Regions from separate parts of the Homo sapiens genome. Here region 1 is linked to region 2. The links come from fine-mapping of genetic effects on gene expression. Tissue or cell type: putamen. Region 2 holds a variant in brackets; the other region holds the start of a gene. All regions are shown on one strand. Distances are between the middles of the regions.

The links. PIP is the estimated chance that this variant, and not a neighbour inherited with it, causes the effect.
Region 1: it holds the start of LMO1, and the variant in region 2 is fine-mapped to the expression of LMO1 in putamen (GTEx, PIP 0.92).

What each region holds. Positions count from the first base shown.
Region 1 is chr11:8,260,732-8,268,837 of GRCh38, forward strand. LMO1 (LIM domain only 1) reads right to left here and starts at 3,147. Exons shown (of 4, transcript NM_002315.3): 1 at 2,607-3,147. The coding sequence starts at 2,631. RefSeq lists enhancers at 1-102, 1,033-1,572, 6,712-7,296, 7,297-7,880 and a silencer at 2,269-2,358.
Region 2 is chr11:8,426,186-8,434,291 of GRCh38, forward strand. The region is part of intron 14 of STK33 (serine/threonine kinase 33); the gene reads right to left. Among named protein-coding and RNA genes, the nearest start is that of STK33, 160 kb to the right of the region's middle. The variant T/C (reference allele first, on the strand shown) is at 3,286.

The DNA of each region.
Region 1 (8,106 bases), 170 kb before region 2:
AGACCCGACTTCAACCAGAGGAGCCCCAGCCTCTCCAGACAAGATGCTGTCAGGTGGAGAAAAGGCGTTGGGGGTGGTTAATAGCAGCCCTGAGTCCCTGCTGCAGCCAGACAAAAGGTGCCGTATGCAGGGAACGCACCCTTTGGGGGAGCCGGGGGGTGGGGGAATGCTGCCACCCAGTTCAGATAGCCACCTGCTGAGAGGGCAGAAGCGTTCAAGAAGAAGATAGGTGGTTGGTTTGGAGGAGCAGATGAGTGCATCCAGAACCTTTCTCCCTCCCCCAATTGAAGATGCCATCTTCAAGGTTTCCTGGAACTATGGGAGGCCAGACTCCTCTTAATAGGGAGTGGAGTGCAGATGCATGAGCAGAAACGTCGCTTTTGAAAGACAGCTATGGGCTGGGTAGGACAAGAATAGGTGGCTGCTTAGGACACCAGTGGATGTGCTTGTGCTGTAATGGACCCCAGAGCCCAGCAGCTCCATGGTAGTGGGCACCATATTGTTTAGGCTGGACAGGCTGGGGATGGAGGGGCATCTGGAGCTCTCTTCCACAGATCTAGCAGAAACCAGAAGAAACATCTGCCCAGGGTGCTTGAGGTACACTGCAATTTGGAGGCAGGGAGCTGGCTAAAATGACCTCCAGAAATCCATTCTCACTCAAGGCTCATCTGAAACCCTTTGTATTATCTCAGAGCCAGAGGCATCATGTGGTGCCTGGGCAGAGCAAGATCCTGGGTGCAGGTAGGGGGTGTCATCTTGTTGGCATGAGACCAATCTCCCTGGCCTGAGGCCTCTCACGTACAGAGCCCGAGTCTTCTGGATTCCTGGCTTGGGCCTGGGGAGCCAAGTATGCCAAATAACCTCTGCTAAAGATGAACCTTGCATGCTCCCCATAGTGACAGTATCTCCAGGTACCAAGGAAGTACCCTCTCCCCTGGCTTCTCCAAGCCCTTCATTTTTACCAAGAGGGAAGGTGAACATGGGGAGTTCGTGATGAAAGGCACCAAATCAAGGTCTCTTCCCTCCCTGTCTGGCCCAACCCCAGACCCCTTCTTCTCCTTTTCATTCTATATGAAGTTCTCCGATGGCCTACATGGGGCTCCAGGGAAGGGGTCCGTGAATAGAGAAGACATATTGAAGATGATGTCCCACCCCAGCTAGCCCAGAAGCACTGAGGTTCCCCCCATCCTCTCTCTTCCTACACACATACTGAGAGCCACAGGTCCTCCTAGATGCCACCCCCAGGCCAGATACTTCAAATTCCCCCTCCCTGCTGGATGTCTCAGAAGGCGGTAGCAGCCTGGGGGCATCGGCACCTGGCAGCGGCAATGCGAACATCCTGTGTGACCCTGAGCAAGTCACTTAGCTTTGCATTTTCACCAACTGGCCACATCAATAACAACGCTGCCCCAGGGACAGAGGGCTCAGGCCCAGCAGAGACTCCTGAACGGAAGGGCAGAGGATGGCCACTACAGTCACTTTAAGAGGATTCCCGCTGACTCAAAGCAAACCTACCCTTTCGGTACCTCACCAATGGCAGAACGCCGGCGGCAGCGTGGGCACCAACAGTCACATACAAATGCCCCTGCAACACCAACACACAGGCCTCACCTACAGGGCAGGAGGTCCTGGGACAGCCAAGGTACTGCCTCTCTCCTTACCCTGGGGACTCATCTTAGGGCACCCACTTGGCTTTCCCCCCAAGGGGGCTGGGATCCCCAGCCTTCTAGGACACTTAACTGCAGGGCACTCCCTGCCAGTAAGGCTTTGGGGTCTATGGGACCACCTGCTAGTGGCTTCCAGCAGCCATGGGCTCCTCTGTTCCGACCTTTCCCGTGCCCTGCAGTTTTCTAGGGCGCACTGAGGCTCGACCACGGAAGGTCCGTGCCACTCTCGCAGGCCGCTCCCGCACAAGTGCTACCGGCCGGCGGCGGGACACTTTCTTCCTCTGGGCCAAACTCCCGCCTCCGCGCTCAGAGAGACAGGGAGCTAGCGGGCCGGCACAAGAGGCGGCTCTCTTTCTCACCGAGTCACGCTCATGCAGATGTCCCCCGGAGGGTCCAACCCGCCTTCCCCTCGCCTGCCGGGCACCCTGGCGCTCGCGCCGTCCTCCCGCGCTCCCGCTTGCCCCGAGCTCTGGAGCCCGATTCTCCCCGAAGCCGCTGATTTGCTCGGCGCTCAGCGCCTCTCGGGTTACGCGGCGGCTGGCGCGAGGGTGATGGCTGCGGTGAGAGCAGCAGCCTCAGACACGAAATGCTCAGAGCGAACCTCCGCGGCGCGGAGATCGCAAGGGAGCCCCAGCCTCCGCGCGGCCCCGCGGCGCAGCACACGGCCAGTGCACAGCTCCTCGGCTCGCGGCCGGGACCCGGGGGGCGTGCGGCCCCGGGCGCGTGCAGCCCGGGGCTCGACCTCCTCCCCCCGCAAGTTCCGCCCGGCTGTCCCCCGGTACTTCCCCCCGCCCCAGCCCCGGCCCCCAGCGCGCCGCCCGCCCCGCAATCCCCGCACAGCCCAGCAGGTGTGCGCCCGTGTCCCCGCGTGTGTGTGCCTGCGCGCCGCGGCAGGGGGCGAGGGGGTGAGGGGCGTCGAGACCCCGGCCCGCCACCTACCGTCCTCCTTGTCCAGCACCATCATCTCGGGCGCTCCGTGTCCAGCCGCAGCTAGGCTCGGCCGGGAGAAGGGCGCCGACTCGGGGCGCGCTTTGGAGGGGCGGCCGGTCTTCGGGCAGCTAGCGGGCTCTAATTACCCGCTTGTCCGGCTCTTAACCTAGATTGCACTCAGCTAGAATTACATTCAGGAGTGAAGCACTTCGCAGATACAAAAGCAGTCTCACCTACTTTTGTGCCTCAGAATTGGAAGGAACTACGAACTGCAATTTAGAGAGAGAGGGAGAGGGAGAGAGAAGGGGGAAAAGAGGATCAGAGCCGTTTCTTTGATTCTCACCTTCTAAATGGCTCAATTTGCCCAGTATAATCTGTCTTAATGTAATTGCATTTGATAGCTCATAACCCTGTCTCTGGCAACGACACAGCTTTCAGCCTCATAAAGTGTTTTCCCCTCGGATTTAATCTGAATCTCAATCTAAAATTATATTCAAAGAGATGGGGGAATCTCGTGGCCGTCTCCCGCTGCCTTTCTCCCTCAATGTATGAGGTTTGCACTCCTGCTACTGCATAAATGCACACATTTCCTGAGGCCTCCACCCTCCCGGGTTAATGGGGAGTGGAGACGCACGGCTGTCCGGCTCCGCAGCGCCACCTGGAGGCTTCTAGGTCCTAGCTCGGTGAGCGTCTTTGCTCCGATCCCAGGGTCGTGGTCTTCAATGATTGTCTGGAGGACGCATCCCATCTGTCACTCCCAGACCCTCAGCCTTGATTTTTGTCTCTTCTTCAGAGCAATATTTCTCTGATCACATCCTTTTCCTTCCTACCAGTTCTGCCCGGGGTTTCGTGTTGCTTCCCGGATTGTTTGGCAAAGTTAACCCTCTTCAGGGCACAAACGATCCTACCGAGTCTTACAGCACTACTCCTGACCCCAGCAGCACCCCCAAAAGCATCCTGACTCCATGGAGCGGGAGAGCTTATCTCAACTTCTCTCGAAGCAAGCACAGGCATGGCCTTGAAAGCTTTTCTCATTCTACAAATATTTACTGAGCATGTATTATGTGCCAAGCACAGTTCTAAGGCACTAGGGATACAGCACTGAACAAAACAAAGATTCCTGCTGCTATTATGGAGTTGACGATTCTTGCTCTGTAACTCATAAGGCAGGAAAAGAGACAGTGCCCATCTCTTCTCCTGGACCCTGCTTCTCCCCAGAATCCTGGGGCTGATGTTCTGGCTGCCTACCCTAGGAAGGCCACCTACCCACCTACTTTTTTTCTTTTCATTCCTTTTTCTTTCTTTCTGTTTTTTCTTTTTTAAGATGGAGTCTTGCTCTGTTGCCCAGGCTGGAGTGCAGTGGTGTGATCTCGGCTCACTGCAAGCTCCGGCTCCCAGGTTCCAGCGAATCTTCTGCCTCAGCCTTCCGAGTAGCTGGGATTACAGGCACACACCACCACGCCCAGCTAATTTTTGTATTTTTTAGTAGAGACGGGGTTTTACCATATTGGCCAGGCTGGTCTCGAACTCCTGACCTCGTGATCCACCCACCTCAGCCTCCCACAGTGATGGGATTACAGGCGTGAGCTGCTGCGCCTGGCCGGAAGGCCACCTACTTTTAAATCCCAAGTCTTTTTTCTTTGCCTAGACAGTACAGAGTTCCAAGGTGGGATAGAAATAATGATTTTTCTTCAGCCCAAGGAGGGCTCCAGACAGATGTGTTGGAGGCTTGGTCCTGGCAATCACTTCTGAGGACTAGACCCAGGGAAAGAGAAACGGGCTGAAGGGCCACCAGTTGGGATTCTATCTCATCTCTGCCAATTACCAACAGTGGACCTTAGCAAGTCTCTTTCTCTATCTGGGCCTCAGTTTCCTTGGCTGTGAGGTGGGAGACCTACTCTTCCTGTATCTATGGTTGCTGTGGGGGTCAGATGAGCTAATGCATGTTAATGTGCTTTGTAAACTGTGGCACTCCAGACAATGCAGGGGGATGGGGGGAGATTATCTGGTTTGAAGGAGACCTGGAGGCTAGGTCTTACCCTTTAAGCCCTGGGAGGCCCCAGTGCTTGACAGGGATGGGGAGCAGCGGGCTGCAGCCATATTCCTCTCTGCTAGGCAGGGAAGTCAGGCTTTGAGAAAACAGAAAAGCGCTGCTTCTAATGAGATGCCTCATCTGCAGCTCAGAGGGTTTCACTTTCCCCTTCATCTTGAATACTTAATCCTAATAGTCCTTGAGTATATTTGATGTTAAATATATCATTTTGCTCAGACTCACCAGCCTCAGGACTGCGAGCTTGATCTCTCCCCTGCCACTGCCGCCAGACCCATGCCCTCAGGGTCTGAGGGAGGCTTTGGCACCGCTGCCACCGGCATATTTGGTGCCAGCCCCTCACACCCACCAGAGCTGGGGGCTAGACAGTGTAGCAAGCACAGGGCCTGACAGGCTGGCAAGGGGCAACTTCTTGCCGTAGAAACCTCTGTGCTACTGGAGGCGTTCACTCCATCGGGGCTGCATGCAGCCTTACTACTGACCTCCAGGGGCAGATTCTCCTCACTTTCAGGGGCTGGCCCTGACCCACAAACCAGGACTGGGCTAGCTGTGGCCACTCTTCCACTCTCTTGTCCACGAGTTTGTCTGAATACCAGCTCACCTCAGCCTCCAAGGTACCTAATTGGCAGCCACATGACTGGCATCCCTTTGGGGAGTCAGGGCCCTGTGCCCCAAACCCAGGGACTGGAGCAGGCCTGGGGTGCTGAGCAATGGGCTGCAGAAGCAGGTAGGGCATGCCAGCAGGGGACTGGTGCTGTGTGTGCCCACAGGTGGCTCTTTCTGCACCCCCAGCTGTGAGCATGGTGCTCCCAAACTGATCTGGAGAGGAACCTTCACAGCAAGTCTTGGAGGGTTTGGGTGGCTTGAGCTTCCAGCCAGGAAGGGGCTTGCTGGGTTGACAGAGGCAGATAGAAACATCACTCACCCCATCTGATGGCCTCTCTCCACTCACTGGGCAAGCAAGTAACTCCCACCCCCATACTCGCCCCACCCCCATGCTCACCCCACCCAAGCTGCTTCTAGGTCCAGGGACACGCCCACAGCACCAGAGTGGAATCCTCAGATCCCCTGGGGCTGGGGGAGGTAGTTTTCCCCCAACACATTCCACAGGTGATGAGCATGTACTCTCACTTCGACAAGCCAAGAGTGCTCCAAAATGCCCTCGAAATGCCTCTGGGAATGGCAGGGAGAGGACAACTATCAATCCCCAAGGTTAGTTTAAGGAGAAAGTGGGTGCTACTGGCTGTCTTACAAATATCTGGGCAGGTCCCAGCAATTTGCCCCTCCACCTGGCAGGAAAGTCCCGAGGAAGAGTTCCTGCATTAGGAGTGGGGGTGGGAGATAGTGGGACCCAGGGCCTGAGGGCCCAGGCCGACTAGATATTACAGAAGTCTTTGGTGGAGACTGTCAGATGTGCCTCAGCCAGAGGGCCTGCTCCCAACACAATGCAGCTGCCTCCAAGACGGAGTTACAAGCTAGCCACACAGGTGATGCTCAGAGAGGTATTGGGGTGACGAGGACCCCTTCTCTGTGGCCACCACAGTTGACAGGACAGAGTAAACCTACAGACTTCGCAGTGCAATCAGGATGCCTGCTGGCCATGTTCAGATGCCCTTCCCTTCCCCCTGCTTACACAAAAGCAGCCAATGCACAGGAATTTGCAACCCGCTGGAGTGAAGAAGTGCACAGTCGGCAAACTTTTCCTCTTTTGGTTTCTGGAGAGCCTGGACAGGCCTTCTTGCAAGCAGCAGTTATAGATTGTTAGGCCTTGTGGAGGCCTAAGCCAAATCTGCACCATAGCAAAGAAATCTCCCCTACCCCTGCACCACAGCCCTGAGAAGGTTTTGGGTGTGCACTGACCAACTGTCCAAGTTTGCCTTGTGACTCAAGGGTTTCCTAGGATACAGGATGTTCAGTACTAAAATTGAGATCGTCCTGAGCAAACAAGGACAATTGATCACTATAGTGAGTGGTGGTAGGATGGGTCAAGGGACTAGCTGGGCCAGAGAGGAAGGCCAGGCAGCCAGACCCTTTCCCTGCAGCCCAGAAGTTGCCTCTCAACCCCAAACCTTCCAGCCTCCTGCCCCAGCACTTCGTCCTTCAGGCACTAAGGGATTGTCCCAGCCTCGGCGGATGGTCTCTGGGTCAGCCAGAGCTGTGAGTTCTTCCAAGAGACTGGCAGTGGAAAGGGTAGGAGTTGGACCCAGGGATGGATGGAAATTTTGTGAGGTCCAAAGCTTACTGTAGTTTGGGCGTGGGGCTCTTTAAGAAAAGGACTACAAGACTACTAATACCAAATTACCACCAAGGACCTGGCAGCTGAAGGAACCTGAAGGACCCTAAACTTCATTAGCTTCAAGGTAAAACCGCCTCTAGTTGAACCTGATATTTTGGACTAGATGGCCCACCCACCTACCCCAGCCAGCGTGGCACCTCCCAACATGCCAGGCTGGGTGAACTGATGGCAGTTCCCTCCCTAGCCCTGCCAGGGGCGGAGACAATTGTCAGCCATCCCGCAGCTACGGAGTGCCAGACCGCAGAGACAGTGCTGGTTTGACGGCACCCTCACCCCTGCACCTGCAGGATCTGTGGGCACCCCCACCACCCCGCTGGGATCCGTTCCGCAGTAGGGTGCGGAAGGGGAACGTGCAGACACCCAGAGAGGCTGGGAGACTGGCTGGCAGTGGGCACTGCCGGGAAGCCCGCGGTGCGGGTCGCAGAGGCGCTCCGGATGCCCGCAAGGCGGCAAGAGTCCGTGAGAAAGTTCCCAGCCGGAGCGCGCAGGGCTGGCGGCCTCGTTGGGACCGGGAGACTTCCTAATCCCGCCGCCGCCGAAGCCCGGGCGCTGAGCCTGGCACCGCCGACCCCGGCACCGGCGCACACATCAGCCGCCGCGCTTCCGGGAAGCCACCCATCAGCCGGAGGAGGCCCGCGGGTGCTGAGGGCTCTGCCGCCGCTAGCGGGGTGGACTCCGCAGGGCCAGCGCCGCAGTCTCCGCCCCACGTCCCGCGTGCCCCCGGGCACCGGCACCGGGCGCCGGGCACCTACCGTCCTCCTGGTCCAACACCATGGTCCCGACGGCTCCAGCCGGACTAGCGCCGAGGATACGGAGGGGCGCGTGGCTCCGACTCCCGCCGCCGGCCGCCTGCGCTGCTCCCGCCGGCCCCGCGCGGGCGCCGAGTCCGGAGAGCCGCGACCGCCGACGGGGGCAGACGGACCGGAGTCCGGAGCGCAGCCCCGCGGGCAGGGAGCGCAGGAGGAGGGACTGGGGGGAAGGCGCGGGGGCGAGACGGCCAGGCCGGGATCGCGGGAGCCTCGCGAGCAGCAGCTGCCCGGGCCGGGCCGCAGCCGGAGCCTGAGCCGCGCGCGCGTCCTTCCTCCGCGCCGGCCGTACTCGCCTCAGCAGAGTGAAGGCTGCATTTCCCAGGGCCCCTCAGATTCCCCTGTTAATTAAATCAA
Region 2 (8,106 bases):
CCAGAAGGGAGATGGAGTGGGAAGGTGGTTTTCCCCTGGAGTCAGGCAGCTCAGCAGCCTGGGCTCTCCTCCAACTGCCCCAGCCAAACTCCGTATTGTTCTGCCGGTGGATGGCTTGCAGGCCTGCTGGCCCTATGCCGCGGAGTGACTCTCAATGTCCAGCTGCTTGTGCGTCTGCCTGCTAGGGTCTCGGGTTTTTTACAGGCCCAGGATGGGGGCATGTCAGGCAGGGGTGGTCTTGGAAAATGCAACATTTAGGCAGGAAAACAGAAATGCCTGTCCTCACCTAGGTCTGTGGGCACATGCCTGGGGGTGGAGCCCTAGCCAGGGACTATGCCCTCCTCTACCTACCTTGGCCTCCCAAAGTGCTGGGATTATAGGCGTGAGCCACCATGCCCAGCCTGTTTTCTCTATTTCTGTCTTAATTTTTCCAAAGATGTATTTATTTTGTGTTTTTTTCAAAGAACCAAATACTGACCTTGTCGATCTTTTCTATTTTACCTTTGAGTTCTATTTAGTTGATTTTCACTCTTAGTTTTATCTTTCCTACTACTTTATTTGGGTTTACTCTGTTAAAATTCTGGAATGTTAAGTTAGATATCATTAATTTTCAGTCTCTGCCCCCTTCCATATCATTGTTATTTCAGTTTCTCCCACTCTTTATATGTTTTTCATTCCTTCCTACTTTAAAAATCTGATGCCTCCATATTCTCCTTTAGCACACTTTCATGTGCTGCTCCCATGCCCTTGCCCCCTTCCCAGTGCTCCTCATGTGGATATTATCATGAATTTTAATTCTGGGTTATCATGATTATGTTTTCTCTTCTTTGGTTTTGTGTTTTGTTTTTGTATTTTTTGATATCAGCGAACTCTACCAAGACATTTAAAGACTCTTGCTGCACATGGCTCTTGTGGCATCTCCTGGATTTGTTTTTCCTCCTCTGTAAGTACTTCTACCATGTGTTTTAACTCCTGTGGCAAACCCTCTGAGCTCTTGTATATTTGAAAATATCTTAATCATTCCCTTTAATATGAATAACAATTTGAATAGATATAACATTTTAACTTTAAAGTTCTTTTTCCCTTAATACAGTTAACATATTACTCCAGTTATTCTTGCATCCAATGTTGCTGCTGAAAAGTAGGATGTCAATGTGATTCTTGTTCTTTTTTATATGATCTGCTCATTCTCTCTGGGAGCTTTTAGAATTTTTCTTATTGATGTTTTAAAATTTCATTACGTCTATTTGTCAGTTTTTTTCTTCTCTCTTATTGGGTAGTCTATCATCTCTTTAAAGCTAAGGTCTTTCTTTAATTCTGATGAATTTATCCCCATTATTTCTTAAACGATTTCCTCCTCCCCCTTTTTATTTTTGTAATCTGAGACTCCTATTAGATGGATTTTGGCACTTTTACTTTTAACCCCATATATCTTTTCTTTTATATTTTCAACTTATTTATCCTCTCCTGCTCCCTTCTGTATAAAGTTCTACAATCTGATCATCTAGTTTTAAAATTCATTCTTTAGTTGTATCTACTATGTATCCTATATCACTGCATTCTATATTTCAACTATTATATTTTTCATACCTACTTGGTTCTGTTTTTATTTCTTATTCTTGCTTCATATTATCAACATCTTCCCTTATCTCTCTTAGTATGTTCACTTTGTTAATTTTTAAATTCTAGGACTGTGTATTCTAAACTCTCTTCTAATGGTGTTTGAAACTTGGCCCCTAAGCTCCTGTTTCCCAGGAAGCATTGGCACCCCAGAAGACAAGGCATGGATCTAGAGCCAGTCCTGGCCCTTGGCCTTGGGAGATCAAGGAAGAGTATGGGGAAGAACCTTAGACACCAAAAACCTGCCCCACTAAGCAACTCCTCAGTTCAGGGTTTCACACTTACCCACCTCCTCCCGCCAGGAGAAATAATCTGAGGAGGAGGTACTCCTAAAGTACACCAAAAGTATCAGCCAGGAGTCCTAGAGTTTGGAGGCCAAGAGGTAAGAAGTCAATGCCTACAACGAGTTAATTCCCACACATTTTCCTTGGCTTCTCATTCAGGCACGGCTTCAGTGCTGCTCCGACTTTATTACTTCAGACCCTTGTGAAGGGATATGTAAGCACTGGTGTCCCAAAGCAAATGACAAGAGGAAAAAGGAAAAACCGGGTTGTTTTGTGTTTCTATTTTAATTCCCTGCCTTGGCTGCAGCCTCACCCACTATCCATACCAGCTCAAGCTATCCCTTTATTTTCCCAGGGATTTCTCACTCTTCTCTGAATCCTGGTATCATGAGGTTTCTCTCTAAAGTTACTTTAGGTTTAATCTTCAGAGAAGACACAGTATCTTGGCAGGAACCAGAGTCTCCTCCAGCAGGCCCTTCACTGAGTGGTCTTGAAACGTAACTCAAACAGCTGTGATGAACTGCATGACACTACTATGTCAAAACTCCTTCCGTTCCTATCCACTTATTTATATAAGGTTCTCAGTGTCTATTAAAACTAAAAACAATACAACATTGCTGAATATTGTCTCATTCTAACAATAGAAATATTCAATCGTGTATGAATGAATTAATTGGGAGGGAAAGCAGCCCTATCCATCCACTAAAGCATTTCCAATATGATACTGTTATGTTTAGTAATTCTAAAAAATTATAATCATGTTCTCTTGATCAATTATATACTACTGATAATAATCATAATGAAAAGTCATTCTTAAATAATTTTTAGAAATTATAGAGCCTTAGAGTCCCAGGAAATAAAAAAAAATTTAAATATAAATTTGAACTTTTTTTGTAAAATGAGACAAATTATAGGTGATTAATAAAATCCATTCAAGCAAAAATATTACATTAGGATAAAATTCTGTGGAAGAAGTAGAATAGAAAAATAGAGACACAAATTCAAAGAGAAGAATGAATAACCTAGTTTCTGTTAAAGAAGAACTTGTTCATAAATATCTAAAAGTGAATGAGATGGATGTCCCATATGGGTAAAAAACTGATATTAGCTTTATTTTTAATTACAAATGTTTATATGATAAATTATACCCCTTGCAATTAATTACATTTATGGTGAAAATTTTTAAAGTTCAACCTAAAAATATCTGAGAAGACTCGTCATTTTTCAAAATTCTTTTTTGTTATCATTCAAGCATAAAAGTTTGAACAGATTGTTCCAAAAACACTTCATTCTTGTTCCAATCTACAAAACCAGCACTTCTAGACTTTAATTTTGTCTCACACCATTTTCCTAGTCACCTAAGAAGCAGTTTTGATTGCTC[T/C]TACTCTCTTACCTCACACTTCTACTTAGTTACAAAATTATGTTTTCTTTCTCAGGTCTTCTTTCTCCCCTCTTCTCTGTTCCCACTCACTGCCCTAGTTTCAGTCTTCGTTATCTTACCCCAGTCCTACTTCAGTTCTCCGGTTTCTGCTTGCCACCACGACAACCATATCACACACTGTTGCCAGATAACTCTTACTGAAGTTCCGTCTGTCCTGGCAAACAATGCATCCACCAACTCACTAACTGATAGAGTCTCAAACACTTGGCTACTTGTTCCCAGCCTGTTCCAATACTCATCTTGTTTCTATTTAACTCCTGACTCTTGGTTCACCTCCTCGTTAAGACCCTGCTTCCACCCTTTAGCCACCACCTGCTCCCTCAAGACCTTCAACTCCAATTTATTCCTAGGGCTCTTCCTAGATTCAACTGAGATTCAGACTATCTCAGGCAAGATACTACATTCGAGTTCTTCCCTCAGAATCTAGTCACTATCTCTAGCCCACAGACCTCATCCAAGTCCACTCACATAACGCTCCAAGGGTGAGAGGGACAAAAGAGAAAACTCACACAAGCACAGCAGCAATCATGGCACTTGAGTGCCTTTCAGTAGTAAGTCATTGCCAAATGAATCAAATGTAAACTCTTAGGGTCTAGAACAAAATAGCTCTAACCTTCCTTTTCAACATAATTTCCCACTACTCTCCTGTATGCCTTCTATGGTTATAGAAAAAAAGGAACTACAAATTATTCTCTGAATATACTTCATATTTTTTCTATCTTTATGCCTTTGAAAAGTTATTTCTATCTAGAATTCTCTTACCTTCCTTACCCCGACTCCTACATGAATTTCTATTTTTACCCACTTTTTAAAAAGCCAGATCACATATTACCTCCACCCTTAAGTAATTTTTATAATCCCCTAAAGCAGGGGTTTCCAATCTTTTCGCTTCCCTGGGCCACACTGGAAGAAGAATTGTCTTAGGCCACACATAAAATACACTAACACTAATGACAGCTGAAGAGCAAAAAAAAAGAAAAATAATAATAATAAATCTCATAAAGTTTTAAGAAAGTTTACAAGTTTGTGCTGGGCTGTGGGTTGGATAAGCTTGCTTAAAAGAATAATAGCTCTCTTCTTGGAAATTTAGTAGTAGTTGTTGTAGTACATTTACATCCTTGTTGATCTATCATTCTCTACCCGTGTTTTTGTTTTAAACCCTCTACTAGGCTGTGGGCAACCTGTGGGCAGGGACCATGCCAGACTGATCCTTGTGTCCTCCAAAGCACATAGTAGCTATCCAATAAATATTTGTTGAATTATTGAGTATATACCAATAATTGAATACTGAGTAAATCCCCAAGTGTCCTGGCTCATGAGCTTTTCCTTAACATAATTTTTTTTTTTTTTTTTTGAGATGGAGTCTTGCTCTGTCACCCAGGTTGGAGTGCAGTGGTGCGATCTTGGCTCACTGCAACCTCCACCTCCTGGGTTCAAGCAATTCTCCTGCCTCAGCCTCCCAAGTAGCTGGGACTACCAGCACCCGCCACCACGCCTGGCTAATTTTTGTATTTTTAGTAGAGATGGGGTTTCACCATATTGGCCAGGCTGATCGCAAACTCCTGACCTTGTGATCCGCCTGCCTCGGCCTCCCAAAGTGCTGGGATTACAAGCGTGACCCACCGCACCCGGCCTCCTTAACATAATTTTTATAGAAGGCTTCATTAGAGACTCAAAAATATATTCATATACATAAGATAATTCAGAATGTATGAATAACTACATATAGTAAAATAAAGGTAAGAGTTAACATATTTAGGATGAAAATATACAGAAGGAGAAAATAACAGCCAACAGTTAGGTATCAGAAAATTTCCATCCTCTTATATAGAGTATATATGTTAAAGCTAAAGGTCAAAAGCCAATGATCAAAACCCGAATAACAATACATAAATTAATGAACAAAGGCCCTGTTCATACATTAGGAAAGACCGTTCTGAAATTAGTCCCTACACCTTGATTACAAAGTGCTTTTGCAAGGTTGTGACTATAAAGCAAAGTACAGACTTACTTGTGGTAAATTAATTACTCAAGGAGAGGAACCGTTTTATTCATCTTTGTACCCCTCTAGTACCTGATGGATTAAATAAAATGATACTTGCAACAATCAATATAGACATTTGAGTGATTGATGTCCTATTTAAAATAAGCCACCTGGCAAGACTGATGCACTTTAACAATATTAATAATTTCTTTAAGAGCATACAACTCTTCTTTACTACCTATGGAATGAAGTTAAAATTGTAACCCTGGTTCAAGTCCACTCACGATTTTCTTTTTTTTCTTAGTCTCACAATTTTCTTTCCTTTTCTGGTCTCATTTCTCACTTCTTTCCTTCAAGCTTCTTATCTGCCAGTCAAATTAAACTTTCTGACTTCATACTTGCTTGCCTCCATACCTCTGGTCATTTTGTAATTTCTTAAGTCATTTATCATTTTCTTCCTTGCGTTAAATCTTATACATAGGTTGTTTTCCTTACTAAATTGTAAGTTCCTTATGTCAGAGACCACGTCTTACGTGGCTTTAACTATATTTTATACCTAGCACCTAGTACCTGGTAGGGGCACACGTGCGTGTACACACAATGTGTTGAAGGAATTAATGTTTGAATATCATTAAAGCTCAAACTACATTATGGCAAGACATAAAAGAAAAACTGACTTCCTTAATTTATAGCAGTGGCTTTTAAATATAAGTGGGCAGAAGAAATACCTGGGGAACTTGTTAAAAATGTAAATTCTTGGTGTTATTTGTCACCAGGAGACTTGAAGGAATACCAAGGCAATTATCTAATAAGAAGCAATTAACTCCTGAACCACAGTTGACAGTAAAAGGAAACAAGGAAGAAATGAATGAAAGAAAAGAACCGGCATACTCCGGCCATTAGAGTCAAACTCTTCCTTTGCAAGAAAGTCATTTATTGGGTATTTTTCCTTCCATCTAACCACTGACTTTTTAAATCAGGATGACAATATGTATGTGTTTATTTGAAATTCCATTCCCTTAAATGTACAAGAGAAATAGTTATTTTTCTTAGAATACTTTTCAGATATTTACCACATTTCAAAATGCACAGTACATAGGCTAAACCATAGAAACTTTATAGAAAAATGTTACTATGTGTTAGGTATTACAAAAGGTAAGCTCTGGTTGTAAAGCAGCAGGGCGCTGAGAGAACTACATATTTTCTTTAGATTACTTCAAACAGGGGATATGAATCATAGAAAGTAAGACTTCAAGTGGTTAAGAAGAGTTTTGCCTTTCAGAAGTTTGTAAAATGCCAGTATTCTAAATTTCATCCACTGAATTCCTTAGGACAATCCAATATAGTATACAATATCTGTCACTTCTCTATCCATTTGGCAAAGACTTCATAGAGACAAATGTTACAGAGGCTCAAAAATGGAGACTACTAGAAAAATGACCAAAGCCAGAAATAAAGTATGTGCTAATTAGAAAACAAATAATTAAATGGCCCAACCCGAATGTTGTGTGATGCTGAAAAGAGATAAATTTCTAAGGCACACCATCTGTTTTACAGTTTATTTTGCTGTACTACAAACCTACTCAATATAGTTCTGCAGTGATCTAGCTGCTAACTCATTTGCACAATTACTTTAGGCCAGAAATAACTGTTGCACAGAATCCTTTGAGAGAGCAACACATTCATGGAAGAGGGCAAACATAATTCATTCTTGGGTGAAGACTATTTTTAGCCCTTAAAGAAAAAAAAAGTTATTCAAAGAAATGATTAGAAATTGCCAAAGGAAAATTAGATAATTTAAAAGGAGAGTGATATCACTATATATTTATGTATCTAAATTTATCTGAGGTTCTTAATGTTTTAGTGCCTAAAGACATGTTGCTGGGACCTCTTCTCTCTATCTGTATTTTCTTCCTTATTTATCTTTTCAGCCCAGTGGCTTTAAGTGGTGTTTGTATACTCATGATTCTCAAATTTATATCTTCATCTTAAATCTTTCCAGTTTCAAACTCATATATTCAATTATCTGTTTGATATCACCACTTGGATGCCACATAAGCATTGCAAACTGATCCTATCTAATATAGAACCTTTGATTCACCATCCGTGTCCCAGAAATAAATCTATTTCTCCTACAGTCTTCCATATCTCAGTAAATGGCACCAACATCCAACCAGTTGTTAGAATAAAATCTAGATGTCACCCTTATTTCCTCTCTTAGCCTCATTCTTCATCGAATCCGTCATCAACTCCTATCAATTATACCTCTAAAATATATCTCAGGTTTTTCTCTTCATCGCTATTGCTACCACCCTATCCAAGTCACTATTATCTCTCAACAGTACTACTTCAACATCTATCTAATTCCCTATTTCCAAGCCACTCCCCCCCACCCCAATAGTCAGAGTGATCTTTTAAGAATATTATCGGCCGGGCATGGTGGCTCACACCTGTAATCCCAGCACTTTGGGAGGCCGAGCCGGGCAGATGATGAGGCCAAGAGATCGAGACCATCCTGGCCAATATGGTGAAATTCTGTGTCTACTAAAAATACAAAAAATTGCTGGGCATGGTGGTGCATGCCTTTAGTCCCTCAGGAGGCTGAGGCAGGAGAATCACTTGAACCCAGGAGGCAGAGGTTGCAGTTGACTTGAACCCAGGAGGCAGAGGTTGCAGTGAGCCGAGATTGTGTCACTGCACTCCAGCCTGGTGACAGAGCGAGACTCCGTCTCAAAAAAAAAAAAAAAAAAAAGAATATTATCATATGCTAATTTATA